Homo sapiens: one gene and its partner. The protein of the gene in region 1 purifies or fractionates together with the protein of each later gene. This does not show direct contact. Each region holds a gene or a part of one and is shown on either strand. Other genes may lie near its edges.

Region 1 (3,814 bases):
ATTAGTAAACACCTATTATGGCCTTGTGTTACATGATATACAAGTAAACAAGGCACAAAAATCCCTGTCCTAAAAACTTATAGAATAGACATACAGTGGAGATGAGAAAAAAATAAGATAAATACATGAAATAATATAAGGTAAAGTAAAAATATAGTGCCAAGGTTTCCATAATACAAGGAGCTATAGATTCTTGAGTGTAGAGTAAGAAAGAATAATGGAAATTTTGTGGATGCAATGAATTTGATCTGGGTCCTGAAAAACAGCAATCCTTCCTAGTCCTAAAGAGGATCAATTTTTAACAGGTAGGATTGGGGGGGGTTGGGTGGAAAAAGAACATCCTTCCACGCTGATTCAAACAACCTAAGCTTAGGGAAATTCTGGCTAATAAAGATACTATATAGTAATCCCCCTTATCGACGGGGGGGATATCTTCTAAGATCGCCAGTGGATGCCTGCAACCGAGGATAGTATCAAACCGGATATATACTATGTATTCTCCTACACATATCTATGATAAAGTTTAAATTATAAATTAGGCACAGTAAGAGATTAACAATAATAATAAAATAGAGCAATTATAATTATAATTATTATAAGGTTATGTGAATGTGGTCTCGCTCTCTATTAAAATATCTTATTGTTCTACAATCGCCTGTTTTTGAACTGCGGTTGACCATGGGTAACTGAAACCACAGAAAGCAAAACTTGAATAAGGGGTGACTACTCAGTGGAAGTAATGAAAATGACACAGTTTAAGAAGATAAAATCACAAATTTGTATGCACAAATATTATATCAACTACAGTAGTCCCCACTTCTTAAATGGTGATAAATTACTATGATTCTGTTTTGCATATTAAACACACTTTTGTATATATCAGCTGTCCAAGGCAGAAATTCTTTTTTGATCATTTGGTGATTTTATTTTTTCAAATATAAAGATCAATATTATTAGTTACTTTTGATAAAACATTGTTTTTTCTTAAATTTATCCCAAAGTTGTCTTTATTATTTCATAGTACGATTATGCATTATGGCTAGTTCCAGGACCCTACTTTTTACTCATAGCATGTTCTTTCTTGAAAATTAGGCTTTTGAATAAAGCCATTTGATTAGAACTCATATTTCTAGAAATCAAATCCAACCCTAATAAATTGCGTATTTATATAAAAGTAAAATATACCCAAACATGTTTACGATTTAGTTAAATAGTCCACTGATGAAATGTTTAACATTTATGTTGTAGGTCATAAACTACAAAGACTTAAAACTGATGAGCGCAAGTTCAAATTATGTTAAAGGCTATACTGAAAAATCCAAAGACACTTCCAGTTGTGCACAAAACATATTCCCATAACTATAAATAAAGTTAAGAATTAACCTTTTGCTCCCTTATATAGGTAGAATGTTTCTACTCAACATAATACCTCTTCTACTATTTTATCTGAAATAATTTCTAGTTGAAATAATTAGACATCTTTCAAAACAAAATAAAAGTGTATGGCAAATATGAAACTGCTTTGGGGTGCTCAGAAGATTGTGGACAAACAAAAAACCAATCAACCAAACAAATACAAAACAAACAATCCAAAACTCTGATTAATATAATTGAGAAGTAAAAGCTAACATTATGTATGCATTATATTTAAATATTTGATAGGCTAATCAATTTAGTAAAATAGTGTGCTAGAGAAATATTAAATAAATTGTTAAGATTAAAAATCTAATATACTCAATTATTTAAACAAATCTGTTGGGTAGGTTTTGGAATATCCAGTGCTTTCAAACTCTAATGCCATTTTATGCAAAATAAATGAAATACATATATAGAGAGCTTCCCCTTCTTTATTTTAAAAACTATATTAGAATATATACACAACTAAATATGTATATAAAGCTGCTAAATGGAAAATACCACAGTTTATTACTCTGAAGCGCATGTAACTTTAATTGGGGAAAAAGAAGATTAAAAAAAGTAATCATGTACATTTCTAGCATTAATCTCTTTTAACCTTAGTTAATGGCAGGATCTAATTACTGGTACCAGAGGGAATGTAATAGAACAATTAATAGGCTATAAGAAATCAAGTTACTTTCTTTACATGTCCTTTAATATTATTTCACAATATTAGTTGTTCATGTGGAAGCCCTTTAACTTATCTAAAATCACTCCAAATACACAATTCACATACCTGGACATTTCCTGAAAAACTATTTGATTTTATAATAGCTAAGTTCATATTTAAAAATTATTCTTATCTATAAACATTTGTGACATCTTAGTAAACACAACATACTACCAGTGAAGGACAAGAAAACTCACTAAAATTAATTAATGGAACAAATGACAAAACTGACACTATGCAAATTAGTGATAAAAGTAGACGAAACAGATGATTGTGGTTAGCTAGGCTCACTCATAAAGTGACAGACTTCTGTATATAAACCAGAATAATTGTACAAATCAAATTTGTACCTTAGCAAATATAAAATTTTAAATGTCATAGATGAGACATTTAGGAAAAATCCATAAATTTTAAATTTACACATTCCAAGTCTCTGTTATACTTTGTTTAGGAGGGACAAGGACAGATATTAAATTCACTTATGAGAAGATACTCTATGTAGCACAAATAAGTAGGCTACTTGTAAATTCGCTTCCTGTTACTTAAATGATAACAGGCTCCTGGTGGAAAATACATTTAAAAAGAGTCATTTTAAGGTCTTCTATAAACTTTTCTCCCCATAATCACATAGCAAAGAAAAAGAGGTAGAGGAAGTCAGATCCATTTTATATTTATTGAGTATATTTGTCATTGCATTCAATTTATAGGATATAAAGAATGCATCATGAACTTCTAGTCATATAACTCAATATATTTAAGATTTTTCCTTATCTTTAGTTTTTAGTTGTTTTACTACTATATACCTAGGTATGTTTCTCTTTATATTAACCCGGCTTTTGGTTTGCAGTGCTACTCAAATCCATGGTTTAATGTCTTTTGTTAGTTTTGAATAAGTATTAGCCATCATCTCAAATATTACTTTTCCCTATTCTTTCTCTCACTCCCTTCTGAGACACAAAATACATATTTTCTAGACTTTTAAAAATTGTGTCCCATGTCTCTTTCACTTCTTCCCATATTTTTATCATACTGCACATCAGTTTGGATATTTTCCTACCAGTCTATCTTTCAGAAAAAATTCCAAAACCTGAACAAATGAATAATAAGTAACAAAATCAAAGTCATAATAAAGTCTCCCAGCAAAGAAAAGCTTGGAATTTGATGGCTTCACTGCTGATTTTTACCAAACATTTAAAAAAGAACCAATACCAATCTTACTCAAACTATTCTGAAAAACAGAGGCGGAAGGAATACTTCCAAAATCATTATATGAGGCCAGTATTACTCTGATACCAAAACCAGACAAGGACACATCAAAACAAGAAAACTCCAGGCCAATATCCCTGATGAACACATGCACAAATCCTTAACAAAATACTAGCAAACTGAATCCAATAACAAACCTGAAAGATCATTCATCATGGCCAAGTGGGATTTATCCCAGGGATGCAAGATGGTTCAACATATGCAAATTAACCAATGTGATACATTGTATCAATAGAATGAAGAACAAAAACCATATGATCATTTCAATAGATGCTGAAAAAGTATTTGATAAAATTCAACATCCCTTTATGATAAAAACTCTCACCAAGCGGACTTAATAGACGTCTACAGAACTCTCCACCCACAATCAACAGAATATACATTCTTTTCAGCACCACACTGCACTTATTCCAAAATTGA
Region 2 (3,138 bases), on another chromosome or scaffold:
CACTAAATATATTGATAATTTTATTATCGGTCATATAATTTACAATGTAGAAGATGTTATTCTAGACATTGGTATATACAGCAATAACTAGCATAATTCAGGAAAATTCTTGGTACTACATAGATGATACAGCATACATGCCATTGAATCATATTGGGGAAAGGCACAAAAGGACAATTGTCCTGTTTATAAGGTTGATCACTTGGATACAGTGATATCTCCTAGATATCTCCATTGTAAATATATATTTTCCCTTTTATAATTAATATGTGAGGTGATACTTTAAGATTGTATGAATACCCTTTTCATCTAGTGGCTTTAGCATCCATTGATATTTGTGCCTTTTTTTGTGATTGCAAAATAGTGATTTTCTAACTCTATCATTTCTTCTGCATTTACAAGCTAGCATTGAGCAGTTTGTTCCAGGATGAAGCAATTAAAAATACCAGTGCTTTTGTGTGTGTGTGTGTGTGTGTGTGTGTGTGTGAGAGATATATTTATGTGTGTGTATATATATGTGTTTCTAAATCATAATATAAAATACATTAACTGGAATCATAGCCAAAAAATCTCAAAAGCCACTCATGGTGTGGAGAACATAGCAGTTGATTAGCCGTGGCTTTAAAATTGAATCAGTCCTAGAAAGAGAATTCCCTTTACCTGGGATACCTTGAAAAGATTCTTGTGTGTTTGTTGTTTTGGATTTTTAAGAAATCTCATCGAGAAGCATGGTAGGAGTTTTATGTATAGTGGGTGGGTATCTATTTCAAAAAATATTTTTGCTAAGTTTATTTTTATTTTTCTGCTAACTGGAAATAAATCTTGTTTTTAATACATGTCATTACACATCTCCTGTTCCAAAAAACCTATTCATACTGTTTTTCTCTGAATAAATATTGGCAAAATTTTTATATGGTCAGGAGTGAATGACAGCATTCTTATGTGCGAGTATTGTTTCATTTTGTTTTATAATGTTGATGTTGAAATGGTTATTATAGTCAGAAAAAGAATGAAAGAAACAAAGAGAAACTGCCATCATTATCAAATGAGTCTGAGCTCCATATGCCCCTGATACAACCACCTCTCTTTAAGAGATGCACTTCCACAGAAAAGGTAGTTCCCAAACTTGGCTGATCATTGGAATCACTTGGAAACTTTGAATTAAAGATTGTTAGCCAATTAAATAGGTGTGGGACAAAGCCTAGATGTCAGAATTCTAAAAATATTACTGCTTAGGTAATTCTGATGATCAACTAAGTTTGGACACCATTGCCATAGTTTTATAAAAATGGGAAAAACTATACATACAACTATTATAAAGTAAATACATTAAACCATTATTTATGGTTAAATTGAAGGGGGTAGAGTAGCTATTGATGATTTTAATTTTATTCTTTGCATGTTTGTACTTTCCATATTTCTATAATGAATGTTTTTTAAATCAGAATAAAACAGAAAATGTTATGTTATGTTATGTTATGTTAAAATATTTATGTAAAACCCTTCTTGTCCTTTATGCTGCCTTTCCTTTGCTTTGGCTCAAGTCAAATACCACAAATGATGTTTCATATGGAGCAAATTAAATACAAATTTATATATGCAACTAAGCAATATGAAAAGCATAACCTAGTTTTCAATCCACTAATGAACAAAATCAAATTTCTAATGCTAATGTGAGCAAAACGCAACAGAACTTGAATTATAAATTGAATTACCCAAAAGGTAATGAACTGAATTACTAAATTTGCTGATCATATGGAACAAATTTAAGTGTACTGTTTATTTTAGTATTGATCAAAAACTTTATTTTTAATTCTAGAACAGTCAAAATGAGTTCTAAAAAAATAAGATATCGGTGAGCTTACTAAGGCAAGACTCTTATTCAAATAGAAGTAACTTTTCTAAAACCAACCTTAACCATTTATAAAAAATAACCATATTAAAATAATGTAACAGTATGTAGACTCAAATTTACAACAAAATCAAAAAAGAAATTGCTTCCTTCTCATACCCCAAGATGCCTTTGGTCTATATTTTTTAAATGAAGTGGTCCCAAAATGGTATGTTGTAAATAATTTTCCCTATTTTTTTTTTTTTTTACAGGGTGGCAGAAAAGGGAAAAGAAACTCTGAATCCGACCAGTGTAGGTGATTACATTAGCCTTTGAAGTCAACACAAAGTTTAAAACTTCCAGGATTTTGCAAAGTTGTATATATTTAATGCTGTGCAACTGCTAAACTATGCAGTTTTTCTTGAAGGAACTAAAAGCAACTAGCTCCCTAATGGTCTATAATTTTATTTCTTTTGGCTTAAAGTGAAAAAGAAGAAATAGAGAATTCCAGCAGAATTCAGTGGTTGTCTACTATCCATACTTCTTATCACTTTAGTTTTTCATCAGTCAATAAAATTAATTTACTCTTCCACTAATATGTTTGATTTGTTAAGTTTCAGAAACATGAAATGAAAGTATTTTTGCTTACAGCACAGCCAATCAGTTGGGTCCTTTCAGTTCAGTGAAAATTTTCTCAGCACTTTCTGCACACTAAACCCTGCAGGACATGCAAGATGAAATATGGCTGATACCCTCAAATAGCTTATGCTTGGGGGAAGTAGAAGGTGGGAGTGGTTAGGCCGGGTGTGGTGGCTAACACCTGTAACCCCAGCACTTTGGGAGGCCAAGGTGGGCAGATCACTTGAGGCCAGGAGTTTGAGAGCAGCCTGGCCAACATGGTGAAACCCCGTCTCTACTAAAAATATAAAAATTAGCTAGGCATGGTGGTGTGCGCCTGTAATCCCAGCTACTCGGGAGGCTGAGGCAGGAGAATCGCTTGAACCTCGGAGTCAGAGGTTGTAGTGAGCTGGGTGACACAGAGAGACTCTGTCTCAAAAAAAAAAAAAAAAAAAAAAAGGTGGGGGTGGGTAAAACAAGAGCAAAAAATAATTACCATAGATAGTAGAGTGTGAAATCACATTGTTTGGAGATGGAGAAAACTTGCATGAAATAGCTTTTAAAGGGTAGATATTTTTTCTGTAAATTTATTGACAGGCGGTCCAGGCAGGCAGAATGAAAAACAGTCTGTGGGCTGGGAATGGTGGCTCATGCCTGTAATCCCAGCACTTTAGGAGGCAGCGGTAGGA

Evidence for each region. Proteins that work in one complex are often made in the same cells at the same time.
Region 2: the proteins of KIF18A (region 1) and GKAP1 purify together in Homo sapiens (affinity purification with mass spectrometry; one large-scale study listed by BioGRID and IntAct). This does not show direct contact.

The regions. Positions count from the first base shown.
Region 1 is NC_000011.10:28,024,450-28,028,263, forward strand, and holds part of KIF18A (kinesin-like protein KIF18A), read right to left. Parts: intron 1-3,814.
Region 2 is NC_000009.12:83,738,710-83,741,847, reverse strand, and holds the end of GKAP1 (G kinase-anchoring protein 1), read left to right. Parts: intron 1-2,103; coding exon 2,104-2,151; 3' UTR 2,152-2,423; downstream 2,424-3,138. UniProt on the Homo sapiens protein: Regulates insulin-dependent IRS1 tyrosine phosphorylation in adipocytes by modulating the availability of IRS1 to IR tyrosine kinase. Its association with IRS1 is required for insulin-induced translocation of SLC2A4 to the cell membrane.